Linked DNA regions of Homo sapiens: regions 1 and 2 are each linked to region 3. Evidence: fine-mapped expression QTL. A gene starts in region 3. Each other region holds a variant in brackets. All regions are shown on one strand. Distances are from middle to middle.

The links. PIP is the estimated chance that this variant, and not a neighbour inherited with it, causes the effect.
Region 1: its variant is fine-mapped to the expression of RHBDD1 in whole blood (TOPMed, PIP 0.94).
Region 2: its variant is fine-mapped to the expression of RHBDD1 in monocytes (TOPMed, PIP above 0.99).

What each region holds. Positions count from the first base shown.
Region 1 is chr2:226,971,836-226,980,018 of GRCh38, reverse strand. The region is part of intron 8 of RHBDD1 (rhomboid domain containing 1); the gene reads right to left. It also overlaps a transcript of COL4A4 not described here. Among named protein-coding and RNA genes, the nearest start is that of RHBDD1, 140 kb to the right of the region's middle. The variant A/G (reference allele first, on the strand shown) is at 4,858.
Region 2 is chr2:226,871,888-226,880,070 of GRCh38, reverse strand. The region is part of intron 5 of RHBDD1 (rhomboid domain containing 1); the gene reads right to left. Among named protein-coding and RNA genes, the nearest start is that of RHBDD1, 40 kb to the right of the region's middle. The variant CT/T (reference allele first, on the strand shown) is at 4,363.
Region 3 is chr2:226,832,019-226,840,201 of GRCh38, reverse strand. It overlaps RHBDD1 (rhomboid domain containing 1), which reads right to left and starts at 4,148. Exons shown (of 9, transcript NM_001167608.3): 1 at 4,115-4,148; 2 at 2,048-2,129; 3 at 575-793. RefSeq lists enhancers at 3,636-3,785, 4,626-4,695, 4,535-4,829 and a silencer at 3,836-4,365.

The sequences.
Region 1 (8,183 bases), 140 kb before region 3:
CCTAGAGTCTTCCTTGACACCTTCCTCTTCCACTCGTCCTGTCCCCAAATTCAATCCATCAAAACCTGTCATTTTAACCTGAACATTCCCAAATTTGTCCATTGTTCTCTATCTGTCCTGTCACCAACTATGTTTGAGTCACCTGTATCATGGGCCTAGACCAGTGCCTAAACCGCTGTGATGGTTAATGTAGGTGTGAACTAGACTGGCTTGAGGGATGACTAGATGGCTGGTGAAGCAGTGCTCCTGGGTGTTTCTGAAAGTTGCCAGAGACTGACCGACATTCAAGTCAGGCGACTGAGAGAGGAAGATGCGCCCCAATGTGGGTGGGCACCATCCAGTGGATTGCCAGTATGGCTAGAACAGGGCAGACGGTAGAAGGGTACCCAGCCTGCTGAGTCTTCTTGCTCTTCCTCTCTCCTCCTGTGCGGGATGCTTGCTTCCTCTCCTCCTGCCTTTGAATATGATGAGCCAGCCAAGTAAAACGGGCTCCTAGAGAATCTCCAACTGACCTGTGCAATGGGAGGATGGGGTGGGGTCTCGGGAAGTTCCAGCCATTTGCAGGGGGGAGGAGCCTGGCCCCTCCTGTTCCTGGGTGGTGACCTGGGATTCAATTGGTGAGATGGGGGCCTGTTAACAGGAACCATCTTGCTTTGCTGAGTTTTTTCCTTTTTTCACCCAATAAATTCTGCTTTTCTCACCCTTCTATGTGTCCATAAGCCTTATCTTTCCTGGTTGTGTGACAAGAACCTAGTTTTTAGCTGAACTGAGGAGAAAGTCCTACAACAATGAGACTGCAGTTTCTTCAGCTCTTGGACACTGGGACTTTCAGCAGTGGCCTCTTGGGGGCTCTTGGGCCTTGGGCCTCAGACTGACGGCTGCGCTGCAGGTTTCCTTTGTTTTGAGGCTTTTGGACTGGGAATGAGCCACACGAATAGCTTCTTTCTTTCCCCAGCCCGCAGATGGCCTATCATAGGACTTTGCTTGTAATCACTTAGCTGATTCTCCATAATAAACTCTTTTTTATACATACCTACATCCTATTGGTTTCTGTCCCTCTGAAGAACTCTAACACAACCCTAAACCATTTCCCCACACTCGCTCCTGTCTTCCTACCAGCCATTCTCCACACAGTAGCTGGGAGAGCTTTTCAAAAACAAACATCTCTCCTTGCTTCATGTCCTCTAGCTCTTGGCTCAAACACAACTTCTCCAGGGAAGTGACTGTGTCCTCTGATCACCCCCAGTGAGGGTCCTTTGCCTGAAGCTCTCACAGGATCCCCTCCCTTCACAGCACATGATGCCATGGTTAGTGATTACTCGTGAATCTAATCATTTTGACAGCGTGCATTCTCACTGCGTTGTGAGCTCCATGGGGGCAAGGACAGTGAGGGTTTATGTCCACATTCTATGCCTGGGGATGAACAAATAAATGAACAAATGCAGGAATGGAAGGAGGTGTAGAGTGCTAAATATTGCCTTCATTATACAGATGTAAAGACTGAGGCTCGACGTAGGTGGGCAGTTTCTTGAGGTCTCACACCAGAAAACGGTATGGTCCATATGTCCAGGGGTCAGATCCAAGCCCAGCACTCTTCATATTCCGCCAGTTTGCTTTGGACACCAGTACACACATGTTTCCCTTTACCATCCAACCTTTCTCTACTCCAACTAGTGGCTTGGCAAAAAATTAGAGATTTTTAATGGGGGGCTAGCAGGCTATAGGAAGGGTTGTAATTGGTACATGGAGAAAAAAGAGTACAAATTGAATATTTGAATTTTAAAAAAAAGATGATCATGAAAAGGCACAAAATGTGTTGCTGTTTAGTCCAAGTGTAACAGCGTTCTAGAATTGTTTCTATGGATCTGAAGACAGATTAAGGGCAAGTGACTTGGCAAAAGGCCTAGACCTGTTTTCAGATAATTATCTCACAGTAGAAAAAAATAAGGGCAGTACAAGCTCCAGTGAGGACACTACACCAACATGACAGATCTAAATGGAACATACTTCTATGAGTCATTTATAGCTTTAAATACTATAGAGAAAAGAATGCATAAAACATGCCCAAACAGCCTCTTTTTGATGTGGTGAACTCTTTTAAAACCACATTGTTCAAATTTACGTTAAAATGCAAACTCTTCATGTTTACAATGGTACTATTGGAGGAACTCAATATAAAAGTACAACTGTTACATTCCAAAGACAAGACTTAGAACAATAGGCCAATTCCCAGTGTGAATTTATGAGCTGCTAAACCTCAAAAGATTTCTTCAATTAGCAATGAAGACTCTTGACATATTTGCAGCCTGATATAGGGGCTGCTCTTTATATAATTTGGGGTGTATCAGAACTTTTCCTTACTTTTATTTACCTCGGATGACAACTATTATGCTTCTCCCTGTGCAGCGTTTGATCCTGCTAATTATGCTACAGGGCCAGGATGGTGTTTCACGGTTCACCATTGCTCCTGGGGCAGGCTACAAATTATACATAATGCACTGCATTGTAATTGCTGCATTGTGAACTTTGCTCGCCTTTCCAACACAAAATACCGACATCTAAGTTGTTTTATTATTAAAAACCATAAGGGATTCTTTTGGATTATAAACATCTGAAGACGTAACATTCTCATGAATTCCAGCCGGCTATTTCGGACACTCAGTGGGGCAGACAAGGCTGAAAAGCAAAGCAAATACACTTCATATTTGTGTTTACAGAAAAAAAGGAGGCGGCAGTCATGAAGGCAAGACTGTGTTAAATGCAAAACTAAAGGGAGGGGGAGCTTGCCGAAGGGGAGACACAAACTGAACTGGGAAACCAGAGACGCGAGACATCCAATGATGCTCCTTGACTTCTCTGGGCCTCAAGTTCCTCATTTCCAGAACAAAGGCACAGAAACAAATGACCAAAAAGATCCCTTTTTCCATGAAGACAGGCATTCATGAGAGCAGTGGCTTGTTTCTGAGTCTCACTTGTGAGGCCAGCCTTATCCCAGCCTGAAGGGTAAACCAGGAACCCGAGTCTTGTGCCAGACAAGAGGCCTCTGCCATCCACCCTGTTTGTTTGGGGCCTCTAAGAAATAGATAATGGCTCTTTCAATGGGAGGAGGGGGTCAAAATAAATGAAGCCTCAGTTTTATATATAAAATGCCACCAAGTGGGGAAAAATATCAGAGCAGTATTGTGGTCACTGAAATTTATCACTGCCCTTGTGACCCAGGGCCAAGAGGCCTCACTCCAGACACCTACCCGATAGGCCCAAGTCATAGTACCTTGTGCCTGCAGCACTTAGAAGCCACACCCAGGCCCCGTTAAGGTACTCCTAACCCTCCCTTCTCTCCTCCTCTCAAAATGAGACAATAGCCTGATGTGTGAAGTTGGACTGGGGTCTCTTCTCTTCCTCTAAGTGTTCTAGATGAGCTTAAGGTAGCAGCAGCACCACACGGAACTGTGTGCATTCTTCATCAGTATACGGTGGTGAGTCTCCTACACAGTGAAGATGGGATAGTCAAAGAAGAGGAAAAGGCAGGGGAGGGTTTCCAGGTAAGGAGGCGTGGGTAAAGCTCACACATTTTGATAATTTACAACAAATTGTTACTATATTGGGGTACTGCTCCTTTGATGTTGCTGCATGTCAAAGCAGCTGAAGCAGACGTCTCGACTTGGACTTGGGAAGTCACTGACTAGACATCCTCATTTCTCTTTGTCTAGTGGTGTCTCCAGGGGGGTGGGCATATCCAAGATCTAGTATGACCAGAGGACACAGACAAGGTGACAGAGGACTTAAGTGACAATGGACAAGAGCTCCACACCTGGACTGCCCCAGAAGCCCTGCTTGGCTGCTAAGTTTGGGCTGGCCTTGAGGGAAGAGCAGGCTGTGCTCTCACACCTTCCAAGTGTCCCTAGTACCAAAAACTTGGGGCTTTGTACCTCTGCTCCAATCCATACTGCACATAGTCTCCAAACCAAACAGCCAGGACTTGTGACCAGACAGGCCCTGCTATGCTAATGGGGGCAGGAGACCTATTTTCAACTGGAACCATGAGTGTGACTGTTCCCCAGATCTAGATACAGAACACAACAACCCTGGGGCCACTTACATTACTCCTGCAGCCAAATGCACTCAATCAGAACCCTCAGAGGGACAAGGTAATCTTGCCTGCTATCTATTGGTGACAATGAAATCTTGCTTTTGTGTATTATCTCTTTTCAAACATTTTCTAAATAATCTGTAGTTCCTAAGCATCATCATAACTTTTAATATGTCAGTACACAAGGCAATACTTAAGGAGTTTATGTACAAATCATTGTCGAAAATTCCAAGCCTAACAGATTTTAATGAGTTCCTTCTGCATGTAGAAATAAATGTATTTCCCTGCATTGGACAATAGTTTGACGCCATCTTTAAATCCAAGCAGATTCCCCTCTTCTGTACCAAACTGCCCATTTCATTAGGAGGGCTAATAAGGTTTTCTATCATCTGAGTAGGACTGGCCTGGCTTCTGGGTGGCCCGAGGGGGAAATAAGAATGAGGAAAATCAAGAAGTTGCTCCCTCTAGGAGTGGGGCCCTCCCTCACCCCATGGCCATTCTGAGGAAAGCAAACTGTCATTGAGTTCGGGCCTCCCTCACCTCCAGCTTTATTGAGGTCTAATTGACAAATAAAATTGTATAAGTTTAAGGTGTACAACGTGATGATTTTATATATGTATTTATAGATGTGTGTGTGTGTGTTTGTGTGTGTAGTGAAATGAGTACCACAATCAAGTTAATTACCTCAGGGGCATCGATTCCACCTTTTCTACATGGTCCTGTTATGAAGAGTTTCTCTTTATTCTCATTTATCATTCTGGGGCACC[A/G]TATTAAATCTTGGGAGGCCCTAGGAGAGCTCAGATCTGAAAGATTTTATATTAGAAATGGAACTGCCAACTAAATGGAAGGAGGAGCTGGTGGTTTTAAAAACATAATTTCCTTGCTACCCACTAAGAGTCCCAGTTCTCTCCACGTACCAAGGAGTCACTGCTGCTGATTCACGTGTGGCCATCAGAGCAGTGGAACTAGGCCTCATCTGTGCCACAGGAGCACAGCCTGGAAGAGATACATGGCCTGAAAATGGTAATGGGAGCACCAAGATCTCCAGGATGTCCCTGAGCCACGCACTGGCGAGGTACCTGAAAAGAGTGATCTCCAATTATACGATGACACCGTGAGCACTGTATGGTTCACGACTCTCAGCACTGTACAGTTCACGACTCTCAGCCTGCAGGGAGTATCCACCCTGCTCTTGGGTGCGGGACACTAAAGAGGATCCTGGTGCCTGGAAATCTATACAAATCACTTCCACAGGTACCTTCCCATTTATTTTAGAACCAAACCAGAAGAATGTAATAACTAGATGTCTCTTTTGTACATCCTTGTTCAACGAAAAAGTGACTCTAAAGAAGTTAATACCTTGACAGTCAGGACTAAAAAGAGCAACACCCAGGCCGGGCACGGTGGCTCACGCCTGTAATCCCAGCACTTTGGGAGGCCAAGACCTGTGGATCATGAGGTCAGGAGATCGAAACCATCCTGGCTAACACGGTGAAACCCCGTCTCTACTAAAAATACAAAAAATTAGCCAGGCCCAGTGGTGGGCGCCTGTAATTCCAGCTACTCAGGAGGCTGAGGCAGAAGAATGGCGTGAACCCAGGGGGTGGAGCTTGCAATGAGCCGAGATCACACCACTGCACTCCAGCCTGGGCGACAGAGCGAGACTCTGTCTCAAAAATAAAATAAAATAAAATAAAATAAAAAAAGGGCAACACCCATACAACACTCTGGGCTCAAGTCCCTCTTCAGCGGAACCTTCCCACATTCTATGCACAGGGCAGAGAAGACTCAGAATGCTAATTATTTCTTTGAAGTGTTACACCGAGTGCTGTGCAAAAAGGAATCGCAGGTGAGACAAACGCCGGCCATCTGTCAAAGCCTGACAAACTGGGTAAGGAGGCAAGCATGTGGAAAGGCGGTGAGGGGCACTGGGCCTCTTACCCACAAAACCCTCAAGCTCATTGCAGAGAGGCAGCCACTCTGCTATCAAAGAGCCCATGCGAACGAAAAGGAGATTCTCAGGGGTGGGCAGCCAGGAGGATGAACAGGCAGAATCACAATTCTAACACACAGTAGCCTTACTCATGGGCTCCGGAGTTGTTCTAACGCTCACAGGAATGCTGCAAGAAAGATACGACCTACTTCACTTCTGCTAGTGAAGGAGGCAGGTCAAGGCTCTTCTCATCTGGTTTTCACTTGCTCAGACAATAACAATGATAACAAAATGCTTGCTGCTTCCAAGAATGAACATCTCCATCTGTTTACTCTTGATCTAACTTACCTTTGTCTCTGGAAGAAAACAATTCAAACATAAAATGTTAGAGAGGTCCTTGCTAAGGGGACTAGGCAGGGAAGAGAGTGAATATTACATCTAGGAATCATTTTATGAACTACTCCTAAGGCAGTAGAGCTTTGCTCTTGATCAGTAAACACCAATCTTAGAATGGGGGCAGTTGGGTAAATGGCAAAGCCAATGAGGAAACAGAGTGGAAAAAGGAACAGGCAAACACTCACTTCCCAACTTTCCCAGATAATGAGCCCAGACATCTCCCCCAGGCACCCACTTCTTGGTCACCAGCATCTCTAGCACAGGAAAATGTCTTAAACAATTTTTTTGAGTAATGATTTCCTTAACTTGATGCCAGGCAAATCTCATTCTTTCTCTGGGAAGGATATACTTTGGGATTCCTGCTACAAATTAAATGGTTTGGATGAGTTTGGAAGAAGATCATTTAAGGACAATCAACACTATATAGTTCCGTACACACACATACACACTGCAAAAAGGAAATACTGAAAGTGAACAAGAACCCCGAGGCTGAAGTCCAGGGAGGAACTTCTGTGAGGAAGGATGGCAGCCACAGGGCACAACCCAAACTCAGGTAGGGCTCTGAATCTCTACTTTGAAGTCCAGGCCTACCAAGAAATTAAAACATAAATATAGAAAATCATATAGCAGTGGGGGAACCTGCATGGTTTTTTGTTTTTTTTTTTTTTTTGCTACAGGCTTCCTTCCTTTCTTTAACTTTAGTTGATAAATGGAGGGATTGGGCCTTCTAAATACATGTGGTAACTTGTGTACTTACCTATAACCCAACCAAAAACTGACAGAAACCAAAACATTTCAAATAGACTTCATGAAAGGCACCCTTAAACAGCAAGAGCTTGGCCGAGTGTGAGCAGAGAGCCCCTGGACTCGAGAGACCAGTCTGTGCCGTTCACTGTTGTGTCACTATCATAGGTGTCTAGTCATTATTTGCTGAATGACTGACTCAAAAAATTTCATAGATGGAGGGCAAGTTCCACCATTTCCAGCTCCTGCCTTGACCCAGAAGCTCCGTCCATGAAGCAGCACTGCAGGGTTTTGAGTGTGGCCCACGTCTGCCCTGGTGCCATCTAGTGACCCTGGGAGTCCAGATGAACTGGGTGGAGCAGCCTTCCCAGGCCCACTCATATGGGCAGACCCCTTTTTCCAGGGGGCATAGCAGGGCTGAGAAAGAGGAGGATGGCTCTGCTCTTTAGGTAATCCCTGTCTCTCTCTTCCCTCCTCTCATTTAGCACCTTTGTGTTTCTTTCTTAAGAAGTGGGCTTTTTCCATCAATGATTGACTGGATAAAGAAAATGTGGCACATATACACCATGGAATACTATGCAGCCATACAAAAGAATGAGATCATGTCCTTTGCAGGGACATGGATGAAGCTGGAAGCCATCATTCTCAGCAAACTAACACAGGAACAGAAAACCAAACACCGCATGTTCTCACTCGTAAGTGGGAGTTGAACAATGAGAACACATGGATACAGGGAGTGGAACAGCACACACCAAGGCCTGTTGGGAGTTAGGGGGCAAGGGGATGGAAAGCATTAGGACAAAGACCTAATGCACGTGGGGCTTAAAACATAGATGACGGGCTGACAGGTGCAGCAAACCACCGTGGCACATGTGACCTATGTAACAAACCTACATGTTCTGCACATGTATCCAAGAACTGAAAGTAAAATTAAAAAAAAAAAAAAGTGGGCTTTTGCTTTCTCTCTAGTTTTCTATCATGTTCAATAAGTTCCTTGCCACCAAATTCTAGAGCTTTGAA
Region 2 (8,183 bases), 40 kb before region 3:
CATCCTTGACAATAAACAAATGTGTGTTTATACACACATGGACATGCACACACAGGCCAACCTGTGCTCAACTTGACCAAAATAACACAATAAATTGACATAACTTCTTGAAAAATAACTTAAACCTTCCTTTAGAAACCTAAATCTGAGACAGCCACTCTTCTCCCCTCTCAAAGAGCTGCCACAGACACCAACCCAACTCTGAGAAGACCAAAATTCCTTCTGCAGTCCTTATCCATCAGGTTATTTTTGTTGAAGGAGGTTTCTCTTCTAAGAATGACTAATTTGGGTATTGCTGAATTTATATGTCACTTGCTTATTTATATGGACTCCCAATGTATCTTTTGACCCTATATCCATTGGTTTTTATTTTCTACCAAGCTGTCAGAAATACTTTTACATTTCAAACAATTTAGAAAGGAATGTTATACTTTCATTTGGGAAAATGTATTAAATTTTATACCTCATTTTCTCCTTTGCTCTAGATAACCCTTTTTTTGCATTTTTAAAGGGTTTTACTAATAACTTTGTTTATAACTGAACAACTGTTATTAGCATTTCTGGCTCAGGTGAAGTCTAAATCTGTGAGCACACATTTCCATATACAGACAACTATCTTGAGAGCTGGCACACTCATTAGTAAGCCTCGTGAACAAACAGTACTTGTTCTAACAAAAGACAATAAATTAGCAGAAATCTATGATCATGGCCTGTTCTTCTCATTGCCACCAGAGTCCTGGCAATCTAATTCTCTCTTCCACTGAAGGCAATAAATGATACTGATCCCACACACATATTTAAGTCTAGCTTAAGCAACTAGTAGCCAGTTTAAAGCAGCATCTCTCAAAATTTTTGTACTGTGTCCCACATAAAAACTTATTTTAGACTTCACCCAGCACATATACAAACATAGCTGAAATCAAAGGTCCTTGAAATAATACTTACCCTTTCTATATGTAACACTAATATTTCTATGTCTGTTTTTTTTTTTTTTTTTTGGAATGCCAGTTGTGACACACTAAATTGATTTCACGTCCTTTTAATGAGTTAGAACCCACAGTTGAAAACCACTGATTTAAAACTCTCTTACTTGATGGGTGCTGTTGTTAGGACTCACAGTAGCACAGCAACTCAGTATGGATCTGTCCCCAAGACTCTTTCACTCCCTTCTTTTCACTCTACTCTCCCCGACTCAACACTGTCCTTTGCACACTTTTCATTCTACTTTTCCTATATTCATTCAACTCATGGTTGCCATTACCACTTCTACAGAACAAGTCTCCCCAAATCTAGTGGGACCAAAGAAACGTTTTCTTGGAGTCACAGATTCTGTGGGTCAGGAATTCAGAAGGAGCACACGGGGTGGTCGGTCTCTGCTCCATAATGTCAGCAGCCTCAGCAGAGAAAACTGGAGGTAACTTTGTGGCTCTATCAAAGGCCACACACTCACATGTCTGGCTCTGATGCCACTGATGGTTGGGCCTCTTCCTCACAGCCTGGTGACATCGGGAAAGCTGTATGCTTTTGACATGGGCTCCAGAGACAAGCATTTCAACTCACAAGGCAAGAAACTGCTTGTTTCAGAAGCAATGTGATACTTAACACTGGATTCTATTGGTTACAGCAAGTCACAAATCCACCCAGCTAGCAGAGAGGTGAACTGGACTCCACCTCTTAATGGCTGAGTGGGAAACTTTGAAAAGAACACGTGGGACTGAAGCTATTGTTACAGTTATCTTCTAAATTGCTATTAGCCATTCTCCTTTCTACAAAGAGTTAACAGTTCAAGTCCACAGTTCTTAACCAGCAATTTCAGTGATTGTATATAATTGTACATATTCTACTGCTTCCCTCTCCCTCCCATCCCTAACTACATGAAGCTCCCTTGGAAGCTCCCAGGTTGCAAATAACCATCTTTCCTTTCATACAAGCTAAGCAGTCTTCCCGTGACTAGAGAGGTAGCATCAGAGTTTAAAGCAGCAATTCTCAAAATGTGCTCTATGAATCACTAGAAGCCCCTAAGACCCTTCCAGAGGTTCACAAAGTCAAAACTATTTTCACAGCAACATTAAGACATGATCTGCCCTTTTTTTTAAGAAAAACCATGTTGACATTTACACTAATGGCACAAAAGCAAGAAGACAACTGCTGATGCCTTAGCATGAGTCAAGTGAATCAAGGCAGTGGCCCCAAACAATACCAATAGTCACTGCACTCTTCACAGACACATATTCATGGTGTTTAGGAATATCTTTGACAAAGCGGTAAAATTCCTAATTTTATTAAACACCAAGATTAGTCCACATCTTTTTAATACACCGTGTGATGAAATGTGAAATACACACAAAGCACTTCAGCTGTATAGCAAAGAAAGATGCTTGTGGAAAAAGAAAAGCACTTATGGGTTTGAGCTGTGAGATGAATGAGCCGTTGTTTTCATGGGCCCTCCCCACTTTCCCCTGCCATGTTTACTTAAAAGAAAAACTAATGAACTATGGTTAAAAAAAAAAAAAAAAAAAAGGAAAATGGCTCACATTTTCTAAAAAAATAAAGCAAGCCTTTAAGGAAAACAACTAATGAATTTGTTGTCAATGATAAGATCTGAGCATTGGAGTGAAAATTAGAATTTTGGAAAACTTCTATGTGGCACTGTGAGCTTGACAGCTTCCCAATACTTAAAGAGTTTTCTGATGAGATTGGTGGTGACATAAATAAATGTGATACTTTGATACTGTATAATTAAGTCAATATTTACAAAGTCTACATAATCAGTAAACCAATATTTCCAAATAATCAATGCATAATATTAGAAAATCATATATAGGGAAAAGATCTATTCAAACTTCAAGACAGATCAACAGATTTTAATGTTACAGAACGTGGTCAGGTTCACTGATATGGTTTCAGGTTCCACCTTGGAACTAATCTTAAGCAACCACCACATGCCAAATTAGTAGTGCAAAGAGGGATATCCACGATTACCTGAAAAAGCTACTAAAACAATCCCTCTTACCCTTCCCAAGTACATACCTGTATGAGGCCAAACTGACCTTCAATCAAAATGATATAGCTCTAGGAGTTAACACAGAAGCAAATATGGGAATCAGATTTTTTTAATTAAGCCAAACATTAAAAGTTTTGCAAAAAAATTGCCATTCATCTCATTTTGTTTGAAAACTACATTAATTTTTCATAAACTTATCTATGTGAACACATATTGTGCTTACTGATATTTAAAATGAATTATTGATAAATTATGTTATGAATGTTAATGAATTATATTAATTTTTTTTAATTCTTAGTTTTAATTTCCAATATGGTAAATATTGATAGCTATAACCCACATAAACCAAAACTCTTTGAGGTCCTCAATAATTTTCAAGAGTCTAAATGGGTTTTATGATCAAAAGTTTGAGAACCACTAGTTCAGAGTATGAATTTAGGGGCCTGATTGCAGAAACTTAAACACTGGCTATCCAATGGACTAGCTGATATTTAAGTAGCTACAATAAGTTAACTTTCTGTGCTTCAGTTTCTTCATCTCTTAAGTGGTAGAAGTAATAATTACTTCTTCACAAAGTAGGTATAAGGATGATATGTGATAATATACGTAAAGAGCTTAAATGGTTTTTGGCATGTAGGAAGTTCCCAATACACCAGTCATTCCTATACGGCCCATGAACTGTCACTGGGCCTTGGAAACTGCTCTCCCGTGAGGCTGCTCTTTTCGATTCTCTCAGTCACTGCACTAGTTCTAGCCTTCAGTTTCTTCTCTTGTCTATGTCAACAGTGTAAATGGACACCTGCCACCAATTCTGCAAATCTTTATACTATTCCTGGCCTCCTGTCCTAAACCACATATTCATTCATGGCTTTTCCTTCTCAGAAACCAAAGCCGTGTGTCCATTCTGACTACAAGCATGGCCTAAATTTATTAACCTGCCATCCAAAGCCCTCTATGATTTGGCCTCTTCTCTATGGTTTGGCCTCTTCCCAACTTGGAGTTTATAAAATGCACCATGAAGAACATTTGTTCTGTACATTGCTGCATGCCAGTGCTAAAACAAAAGGGTGCTATTGTCAAGTAAACTTAGGAAACTAATTGGCAAATCCGATTTCCATCCTGCAATGTTTTCAGAATCCTTCACATGTTCATGTGCACTGTGCCCTTGCAGGAACACAGAACACCACATGAGCTGAAGTCTACTGACCAGGAAGCCCTGTTTCAGGATACATCTCAAGGAACTAGTGGTCAAAAGAACACATTTGAAGGAACACCACTAGCTTTATCTCCCAGCATTTATGGATAGATTGTGATTTCATAAATTTGCCAAGCTTCCTATATTTGTTCTTTCTCTTCCC[CT/T]TTCAAAACAAAGAGCAGTCTATCTCATCATCTGCCCTATTATTTCCAAACACTCAACATACATAGCCCTGTCCTCTGCAGCGCCTCCTAATTTCTCAAATCAGAGTTACTTTCCTTTTCTGTTCCTCTATTTTTATTGAACTAACATTCCCACCTTCTGTTCTGGTTTGGGGGGTAGTTAGTGTTTCTTTTGCTAAACTGTGAAGTCTCGATGGGTACGGAAATAGTGTATTGATTTAGGTCAACATTTAACAAGGATCTCAAAAGCACAGGCACATGAGGGAATAAACATTCTCTTTTACTAAAGATTTAATTCAGAATTGTTCAAGATTACTACCTCCTTACATTTGAGTGAGATACCAAGTTCTAAAACAATGAGATATCAGTCCACCTTACAATGGAAAGAATAAAGTAAAAATACCTGAGACAGTTCATAAAGCAATCTAGCAAGCCATTTCAAGCCAAACAGCAACCATGAAAACAACTGATGCTCCTTATCTTATGTCCATCCAACAACAAATATTTACTAATTGCCTACTTTGTGTCAGGCAGATGGTTAAGATACAAAGGTAAACAAGAAACAGCCCCTAAAGAAGCTCATAGCCTAGAAAGAAAGTGAAAAACACAGATTAATTATGATGGAGGAAGGGCTTACGGTAGATAAATCTACAAACACTACAGAAGCAAAGACAAAGAAGTAATTAACACTGCCTGGAGGAATCAGGGGAAGTAGCATACAATAGATACTATGTGATTTGGGTTTTGAATAACCAGGAATTCACAAGGAGACAATAAAAGGCATGCCAGGGAGAGGGAAGAGAGGCGCACACGCACAGGCTGAGACACATGGGATTGGCATTCTGAGTTTGAATTTCCATCACTTTCTATTTTTTGTTTATGCTGTAGTAGGCTGAATAATGGTTCCCCAAAAGACATCTACATCCAAATCCCTGGAACTGATGAATGTAACCATATATGGCAAGGATTTAGCAAGTGTGATTAAGGATCTTGAGGTACAGAGATCATCCAGGATTACCAGGGTGACTCCTAAATGCAATCACAAGTGTCCTGATAAGAAAGAGACGAGGGATATTTAACACAGATAGAAAAAGGAGAAGGCCACATGACCCTGGACACAGAGATGGAGTGATGCAGCCCCAAGCTAAGGAATGGCAGCAGCCACCAGGAGCTGGAAGGAGTAAGGTAATAGTTTCTCCCCTACAAACTGCTCTAGAGTCTAGAGGGAACTCCACCCTGACAACACCAACTGTAGAAGGAATTTGTGTTATTGTAAGCCCCCAGGTTTGTGGTACTTTGTTACAGCAACAATAAGAAACTAATAAAGATGCTGTCTACTATCTGCCTCCAATACCATTTCCTGACATCCATAGAGAACACCAGAGTAGCCTCACATTCTTTGTCCCCCAACCCTACCTCCTACAGTCCTCCTAGGTAATGGCACTGTCCATGCAGATAATCTTCCTGATATGATTTGGCTCTGTGTCCCCACCCAAATCTCATCTTGAATCATAATCTGAATATACTCCTCATGTGTCAAGGGGGGTCCTGGTAGGAGGTGAGTGGAACATGGGTGCAGTTTCTCCCATGCTGGTCTCATGATAGTGAGTTCTCATGAGATCTGGTTGTTTGATAAGTGTCTGGTACTTCCCCTGTGCTCTCTCTTACACCTGCCACCATGTAGGACGACCTTGAATCACCTCCACCTTCTGCCATGACTGTAAGTTTCCTGAGGCCTCCTCAGCCATGGGGAACTGTGAGTCAATTAAACTTCTTTGGTTTATAAATCACCCAGTCTCAGATATTCTTTATAGCAGTGTGAAAACAGACCCACCCACACCTTAAACTCACAACCCCTTGAACAACTCCTTGACTACCAGGACCTTTTCTTCCTCCATGTCTCAATTTCATACCATCATAGACATTCTCAGGGCCATGTCACCAGCAAAACCAACTCCAGCATCCTCTCCTCTGACTACCAATTTCTATTCTCACAGCTTTCTCCGTTTTCAAACTTGACAAAACCTCCTATCTCTTAATTCCTCCATTATCCTGCAGTCTACAAGGCTCTTCAGCTCCATTACTTTCCCTTCCCCAGAGTCATCACTGCACCAACCCCCTCTCAACAGAAACATGCAGCTTTGCCAAGAAGCTTATGAGGCATCAGGTCCCTCACTTGCCTGGGCTCATTCAGAGCTCTGGGAGGGGTCCCAGCAACATGTTCACATGGTCATATTTCTTTTATACTTGTGAAAGTGAGATATCTTAACCACAACCTACTAAAACTGCTGTCTCTTTCCACTCTAACTCCCCCTCTGTCACACTTCCTCCCATATCAGTTGTCACTGGAGTAGCCCCAGGCATTTTTGGGATTCAGCTAAAGGGACGTTGAGTTGAGGATACATTTGGTTTGGGTTCAGCATGGTATATTTATGTGGTTTGTGGTCATTTCTGTGCATAGCTGAGTCACTGCCAGTCTTTACAGTGCAAAAATGGCTTCCAGAAATACTCTTAATGCCCACTGTGCATTTGTAACCAGGATGATAACAGGATATGCAAGAGCAGCGGTCCCACAGCACTCTCAAGTGTCCTGTGGCAGCTAGCACTTGCAGTAAAGTCATCATGCTGGAATCAGGACCAGTGTCTGGAAAAATCTTCCAAACACCAAGCATGTAAAACTGTAAGAAGAGGACTCACTTCTCATTCATATAGTCAAAACTGAAATTAGAGGCTCTCCCACATCAGGAACATATATGATAATGCAGTATATGCAATTATAAATGTACCATGTTCCTTTCCTTTTTGGAGAATCCTGCAAACTAACTTTATCAGAATTCCTGTGTTTATAATTCTCAAACAAAATTATATGCAAATCACATCAGAAAGTGTAAACAAATAATCAGTAGGACTTTGGCTTTCTGGCAATGAATAAAGAGGACTGCATCATAAGAACATTAATTAAGTACTTAAATTACTTGCTGATTTAAGAACAAAGTAGATCAATGAAGAAAACTAAAACCTGCACTTTGCCACTAAAGGTCAATGACAACATTTGATTCAATTCAAAAAACATTTGATATTGATCACTTCACAAAAACTTGAAAAGTACTGAAATTTTACAGCTTGCCTGTAAAAAAAACATTGATAGAGGCTTTCCAAAGTTGGACAGTGATTCTAAAAATTTACATGATGAGCTGTGAAGAAAGCTCTTCTAAACTCTTAATAATAGAAAACTAATTTTGAGCCACCATGATGTTCTCTCTACGGAAATACTATTGCCAGGTTATTTTCATATGAAAAAGAGATCAGAAAGCATGCAGCAAAACCTGTCGGGGAAAATATTACAGAGGTGTGTCAGGGAATTAATATTATATTATTTGTATGGATTTAATAATGTTTATAATATTTGTCAGGTCTTAAAATTTTATGAACTGTCTTTCCCTTTCTCATTTAAAATTTTTACTTTTTTCTGCAATTTTGTACTTTTTTCCTAAGGAGAACCCATAAAACCAAATAAGCTTGAAGTCCATAAAACTAAGACCAGCCTTTGACAAACATTCATCTTCCTCAATTCCTTGCCTTGGGGTCTTAACCCCCAACTCTGGATTAATCTCATCAAACAAATATAAAAGGCATAACCAATGAAGAAGTCATCCTTTATAATTCCCCCTAAAATAAACAATCCAGACAAGGATAACCACTGATCTAGACAAAAAGTTACTGGAAACAAGTTATCCGCATGATGTCCAAGTGTCACCTCATATAGTACTTGCTAATTCCAAAGGGATAAAGGTGCCCTTAT
Region 3 (8,183 bases):
ATTGCCACAAAGCAGCTGGTTGATTGAAAGTAACTCCCCCTCCCCCAAGCTCCAGCTGTCACCAGGAAACCCTCTTCAATGTGTGAAAAAGACAATGTAATATCACTAACTACCACTATTAGTAACAATCTAACAAATACTTAGCATTTGAAATTATTTTTCTTATGAAGGCTCATTATTAACTAAAAATTAACTCTAAAAAAACACTTTACTATATAAATATAGAGTAGTTGCTTCCATACAACAAAAAAATGATAGGGCTATAAACACAAGTAATACACTTCCTTTGACTCCTTGTTTCTTTTTCCCCGAGTCATTTGTAATCCTAAACAACAGTCAGTTAAAATGCCAAATAGCTTTTAATAGCGATACAGCTGTCACAACTTGGAGGGATTTTTTAAAAAGCTAATTCCTCAAAAAAGTGCACAGAATCCTACTTTGTAAAATACGGGTCAGGTGGGTTTTTTTTTTTCTCAATAATCACTCACTCCTCTGCATGAGAAGCCATCCATATGGTGACATGGCTGACAACCTTGGAAATTGTCTTCAGAACAAGTTTGTGAATCCCACTTACCAGAATTCTTAATACCATTACGTTTTAGGTATAGCTCATGCCCTGAGGATTTCTATTCCACCACAGAGTTTCACGTCCAGCTCCCCGGAATCCGAGGTTCCCTAGGCACGCCTCCTAATATCGCTGCCAAGGACCAAGAGCCTGTGCCCTTCAACCTCACTGTTCTTAAAGCTTCTCGGCTCCTGAGTTTTACAGGTAAGATTCTGTTTAAGAGGCTCCCTGTTGAAAAAAAATATGAGGTCCATTGCTTACGTGGCTATGACTGCAACATAAAAGGAAATCTACCTTTTAAAGAATCGCTTCCGTTTTTAATAGTTTTTTTAAAGAACATTTACATATACATGTACGTATCTAATTTTACATATATAGAAAATTTCCTTTTATACTTGGTCCCCACCCCCATATTCCAATATACTGACAAATAAAATTATGACCTAGTGTGAGTCAAGTATTTTCTGCACTCATACATTCATATACAATATAAACACACAGAAATACATGTAAGAGATTTTGTTATCCCTTATTAAAAAATGTAATGTAAAACTTTTCACTTTGCTATTAAGAATTCGTGTTTTAAAAAAATATTAGCAATTTCAGGGCTAACAGCATTTTCTCATCCTTTGATGCATACCTTCAACGAGGTCTCATTTCCTGTAACAGTGTCCCCTTCTCTAGCTGACTGTCCCCATTAACTAACAGAAGATACTTTATTACTCATCCCCTGACCTTTGGATGTTTACCTTGCTGTAAACATCCAAAACAATTTCTACAAGTTGCTCTGTTACAGTGATAAAACTGAAGATGGTGTTTTTTCACGTTAAAGTTTCAACTTTTTTCAAGTGTTTGTTTTTTCTCATTCACAATAATATGAAAGCTTTGACTCCATTTCAGCATTTTATGGTTAAAAAGAAAAGCAGTGCAGTTAGGTAATAAAATTACCTCATTTATAAAAATATTATAAAATGAATGGCATAAAGTTAGGTTTGAGACAACAAATACCTTTTTTCCCTTTGTCCGACACACAACATTTACTGAGCCTCTGTGCCTAAAACAAGGTGGACGTGTTTTATGCGTTATTTCATTTAATTCAATGGCCTGAAGTAGCACATCCTATGACTCCTACTTTACAGAAATTCAAGTGGGGAGGATGTTAATTTGTCTAATGTACACAATCACTAAGTAGCAGAGGCAAGATTCAGAGCAGGGCTTGTCTGACCTAAAACCACAGATAGCGATCTGCCTCTCCGATGAGGAGAACAAAAAAAAATATTTAATGCCTTCGAAAAATAAACATTTCATGATGGGGCAGTGCCAATTTGGTGGCAGAGCTAACGAAATTATTTCCAGAATAATCCATTCAAAGTGACTTATGTTTATCTGAAAACTCTCTCAATATCCAGGAGCCATGGTATAGCCTTGGGAGCAGCGTGCTCTCATCAAAACGACATGTGTAGGCCACGGTTTGGCACTGACCTTCTCAACATTGCAGTGAATGTAGCCTTTAGAGCAGCTGCTTTAAATCCTGAATATTTCTTTCTCCCCCTACAATGGACCCCTGAAAGAGATAAAGTTGTAAGAAAATACTGCATCTAAAAAACACAGCAGGTTGAGGGCACTCCTGTGATCCTTCCTGAAAATGGAGGTATCTAGAGTAGACATGAGATCTTTGCTACCGTGGAGTTGTACGACATATGGGAAACAAAGATAAGGACAGAAACATATTCAGCCTTGGCTTTCGCTTGCAAGTCACTATGTTACAATAATTCTCAACTCTAAAACTAGTGCTTACCTCTGGTCTTTACCAAATTCTGGGTCAAAGAAGGTATAACTAAACTGAAGACGAGGCAGGTGGATTACCTGAGGTCAGGAGTTCGGGACCAGCTTGGCAAACGTGGTGAAACCGTCTCTACTAAAAATACAAAAATTAGCTGGGCGTGGTGGCAGACGCCTGTAATCCCAGCTACCTGGGAAGCTGAGGCAGGAGAATCGTTTGAACCCTGGAGGCAGCGGTTACAGTGATCCAAGATTGCACCATTGCACTCCAGCCTGGGTGGCAGAAAGAGACTGTCTCCAAACAAAGCTGAAGAGATCAGAAGGCCAAAGAATTAAAAACTACTCTTCAACATAAATACTAATGCTATTCTTAAAAATCCTACAACCACAATAGCATTAGTATGCACTGCTTTAACTTTTAACTGAATATCCTGCATCCAACAACCTTGACTACACAGAATTGAGAATCCCGAGGTAAACAAAATACCCTCTAAGCAGCAGTCCCAATATCCATGCGCTACAGCTCATATCTACCCCGCTGAAGAATCCTTCCAGCACAAACTATGTACTTATTTTATGCAGTTCTAATAAGTTACTTAATAACATCTTTGAGGGTTTTCTATGTGTTTTGTGTTAAACATTTTTCTTGCATCTTCATATTCCAGCCCTGTGAGGTAACATGTCCAAGTTTTTCCATCTAGGAATTACTTCAATTCAAATTCCATTATATGTGATTCCACAATGGGTGTTATCACTACGCCATTAATTCTCAAACTTTAGCGTCCAGGTGCATTGGTATCAACTGGAAGGCTTGTTAAAATATATTTCTGATTCAGTAAGTTTGGGATAAGACCCCAAAATGTGCATTTCCAAGAAGTTCCCAAGTGATGCTGATCCTAGCGTCCTGGGATTATTTAGAAACCAATGCACTTCTATTCTTCTTTGAAAGAATACTTGCTTTCCACAGCGACGGCAGGCCTGCAGCAAACCAGAAGCCTTTAAAGTTTATTAGAACTACCTCAAAAAGACACACAACTGTGAGAAATTAGATAAAGCCTTCTAATAAGCAATTTCAAAGAGAAAAAAGAAAAGCCTGGGAGTCACTGAGTGTACTGCAGAGACCCAAACACCTCGATAATTGAATCATAACTAGGCAGGCACTCATTCATTTTGACAGTAACGCTGAGTCTTCAAAAGAGTTTATGCTCAGTTTAGAAAAACAAATAAGGCTGTGATCCGTTTCTTGTAAACGTTTATCCAAAGGTTTTTAGGGGTTGGACAGAAAGGGTTTACTTTGGCGGATTTTTTGTCCTCTAATAAAAGTTATTACTGCGGTGAGGCTTAGACTTGTTCTGAGAAACTGAAAGCTGTCCCGAGAGCACCTGAAACTGCATGCTCTGTTGCTGATGCAACGTCACTTCAAACTTCCTGCTTTCAAAAGGAACCCTTTAAACTCGCTCAGCGCCAACCCCTTCCTCCGAGTGTGGGCACGTCGTTCCCGTGCGGTCCGGCGGAGATGCGGCAACTTCGACAAGACCCCAGGTGGAGTTACCCCAGGAAACGCCCTCCCCGCTCTCGGACTTGCCCCGGACGGGGAGGCTGTGCCTCCAGCCCCGCCATGCCTCCCTCGCCCTAGCCCCCCGGGAGGCGCCGACCTCCGCCCAGCAGCCCCAGCCCGGCCGCCAGCTCCCGCAGCCCGGGGAAACGGCGAGAGATGCCGCTCACAACCAACGACAGCAGCCGGACCAAACAGACGCGGAAACTCACGCTCTCTACGACCCGCCTGCGTCCCCACGTCTTCGCGCGCACGTGCGTCATCACGCACGTTCCCGATCCGGGGCGCCCCGGGTTCCTGGGGCCGGGTGCGGGAGGGGAGGGCCTTAAAGCGGACGGCTCGGCCGCGGCGCATGCTTAGTTGTGCGCGCCCGCGCTCTGCTGTCTGCAGACCGCGTGCGCCGGCAGTGGCTCTAAGGGGGCCGCGAGGGCACAGCGGGGCAGGACCGCGGCAGAGCGCAGTAAGGAGAGTGTGGACCCTCGCCCTGTCCTCTAAGCTCCATGTGAAATGTGGATAATATTCCTTACTGCCATAAATAGCCACTGGCCGCTGACTACGCGTAAGGCAAACAAGCGACCTGCGTTCAAGGGACCCGAAGACTAGGGGAGAAGCAGCGAGCGGGTCGCGGCCGCCTACCCAACGGACGCCTCTGCCCAGGTTCTCTGCCGGGAAGCTTCGTCCTTCCGGGCCCCAGCGCAGCCGGAGGCTGGGGAGCTGCTGCCTGGAAGGGTCAGATACCGCCTGTTAGGCGGAGGGTGGGAAAGACACTCTCCTGCTTCAGGAGCTATCGCAGACAACCGGAGGGCGGCTTATCGCAGAGTCCCAGAGCCAGCCAGCAAGGCAAGGTCGCGGGTGCACCTTTCACTCCCAGAAGCTTGGGTCTGGGACTGCACCACGCAACGTTTGCCCATTTTGAGGGCTTTAGGTGTTTCATATTTCAGTTAATAGAATTTCGATTAATACATAATTTGATACCATTTTAATTGTTTGCTACTCGGGAGCAAGTTTTATGTTTAGCTGTAGGAGTTAGGCTAAGTTAAATGTTGCAATGCTATATATATTTAATAGGATATGAAAAAACTATCTTACAGCCGGGCGCGGTAACTCACGCCTGTAATCCCCGCACTTTGGGAGGTCGAGGCAGGAGGATCGCTTGAGCTCAGGAGTTTGAGACCAGCCTGGACAACATAGTGAGACCTTGTCTCTATTTAAAAAACAACAACAGGCCTGGCGCGGTGGCCCACGCCTGTAATCCCAGCACTTTGGGAGGCTAAGGCGGGCGGATCACCGGAGGTCAGGAATTCAAAACCAGCCTGGCCAACATGGCGAAACCCTGTCTCTACTAAAAATACAAAAATTAGCCAGGCATGGTTGCGGGCGCCTGTAATCCCGGCTACTCGGGAGGCTGAGGCAGGGGAATCCTTGAACCCGGGAGGCAGAGGTTGCAGTGAGATCGCGTCCATGCACTCCAGCCTGGGCGACAGAGCATGACTCTATCTCAAAAAAAAAAAATCTTACTATTTGGTATGGAATTTTCTGATAGCTAGGGTAAAGATGCTCTTTTTCCAAGAAGGAATCCGAGTATCCGAATACAGGTGGTTTAGTGTTACTCTTTGTTTATTGGAAGTTGTAGCAGCTGTGTTTAGATAGTCTGCTAAAACAAAAACTGCCTAAACCAGAAGAGTTTATCTTTTGCCATTGTGTATTAAAACTCTTCATAGAAATATTTATTTTGGAGTTTGAAATTTAAGTGAAAATGTGGCTCATGCATAGGTGTGGGTGTACATATGACTTTCAAGTGACAAAGAAGATTCTTAGCAAATTGTACGTGTTCATTAAGACTCATAAGTTACCTCTTTCCTAGAAAAACAATATACTCCTCCAAAAGCTCAACTGACAATGAGAAACTGCATTTCTGGACATGAAAAGTCAAATGAATGCGGGGAAAAGTAAATTGCCTATAGAGGTATTTTCTGTATTTCCCTAGAGGGGGAAATGTGTAATTTCTCAAAAGGAAGAAGTCCTCATTTATCCTTCTGAACCACAATCATATGAATCCATTCAATTAATATTAATCTTATCTTCTATTCTCCATCACTCTCTACATCTTTCTATAATTGCATCATTTTCTTGTCCGTATAATACATCAAATGCAGAGGTGATTTTAAGGGAGCCACAAATCAAGAAGTCTCAATTCAATAATTTCGTTAAAATGTAAGAAATATATACGGATTAAGAATATTCTTAGGTAATTATGTTCTGTTTCAAATATCAGTGAAAATTTTCATAGACATTTAAGGGGTAAAAGACATTTAACAGATAGAAAAAAATATCTACCTTTTAAAAAATGACCTTCTCTTTTGTCCTACGTGATTTGTTGAGCAGACTGGGTTTTTTAAAAGTTTCTGTTGAAATGAGCATGTTGTAACATGCTCATATCCCATTTCAATTGACAAATATCACTTGGATAATAATTGTATATCTTAAATATGAACATATGAAGCAATCAGCAGCAGCATCCTTTCACTGAGCAAGGCTTAAAAATACCAAAGAATCAGTGCCAGAAGAAATTCTTTAACTTAAAATATACGTAATCACTACATTACCATATAAAACAATGATTTCTAAATGCTGGAAAGTATATATCTTAATCATGAGACGAGGCAGCACTATGCACATTGTGCATAATATGTGAGACATTGAATGGTATAAAATAAATTTTAACTTTTATCTAAGGTTTACAGGAAAAGCAGCAATACCTATGATTAAGCCACCCGACTTAAATGAGTGTTTTTAAGATGTGGTGCTTGCACATAAGCGGAGGAGTGGTGGTAACAACCCTTGTACAGTTCACAAATCCAGGACTGGCAGGAAGGTAGACAAGTGTCATTCTCAGATTTCAGAACCCAGCCTGAAAGTGAGAGGACGTCAGGCAACAATACCATGCAACGACAGCGTGCAACAAATACACAACTGGATTATCTTTTTAAGGGAGAAGCTTGTTTGGGTTTCTAATTGCTTTTAATGAACCAAGTATTGATTACTGTTTTACCCAAAACTGTACCAAAATATGTGTAAAACTGATAAGATAATTTATAGCTTTCTAGTTATGGAAAAGCTTGCAAATTAAATAATTCAAATCTCAATTTAAGAACTGTAAAAATGAGAAATTGGTTCATGTACCATAGTGATAATAATACCAACAATACTTAACAGTAGACTATGCAGACACTAACCATAAGAGATTTGTAGTGGCTATACTAATATCAGATGAAACAGACTTTAAGAAAGAAATTTCTTTTTCTTTTTTCTTTTTTTTGAAGTGCAATGGCACAATCTTGGCTCACTGCAACCTCTGCCTCCCGGGTTCAAGCAATTCTCCTGCCTCAGCTTCCCAAGTAGCTGGGATTACAGGTGCCCGCCACCATGCCTGGCTAATTTTTTGTATTTTTTTAGTAGAGATGGGGTTTCACCATGTCAGCCAGGCTGATCTCAAACTCCTGACCTGATGTGATCCACCTGTCTCGGCCTCCCAAATGGGATTACAGGCCAGCGCGTCTGGCTGACAAGAAATATTTTTAGAGACAGAAATTCCATACTGATAAGAGGGTCAATACATTGAGAAGATATAACAGTTATAAATGTATATGCACCCAGTAACAGAGCCCTAAATTCATGAAGCAAAAATGATTGAATTGAACAGAGAAATATACAAACAACAGTAGTTTGATATTTCAGTATCCTACTCACAATAATGTGTAGAACAACCAGGCAGAAAATCACTAAGTATATAGAAGGCTTGAACAAGACTCTCAACCTAACCAACATGTACAGACCACTGTACTTAATGACAGCTGAATTTATGTTCTTTTTAAAAAGTATACTCTCCAGGATAGCCTTATGTTAGACCATAAATAAGTCTCAGTAAATTTAAAAGAATTGGGATCATACAAAGTACATTCTCCAGTTACAGTGGAATTAAATTAGGGATTGACAATAGAAAGAAATTTGGAAAATCCCCAGATGTTTGGAAATTAGATTACTCATGGGCCAAGGAAGAAGTACTAAAGGAAATTAGAAAGTATTTTGAAATGAATGAAAGTGAAAACATATTGAAGTCATGCACTGCAGCTAAAACAGTGATCAAAAGGGTATTTAGTCCTTTAAACACCAAGAAAAAGAGTCTCAAATCTACACTTCCACCTTGAAAACTAGAAAAAGAGGAGGAACGTAAACCTTTAGCAAAGGGAGGAAATAATGATCATATTGCAAATCAATAAA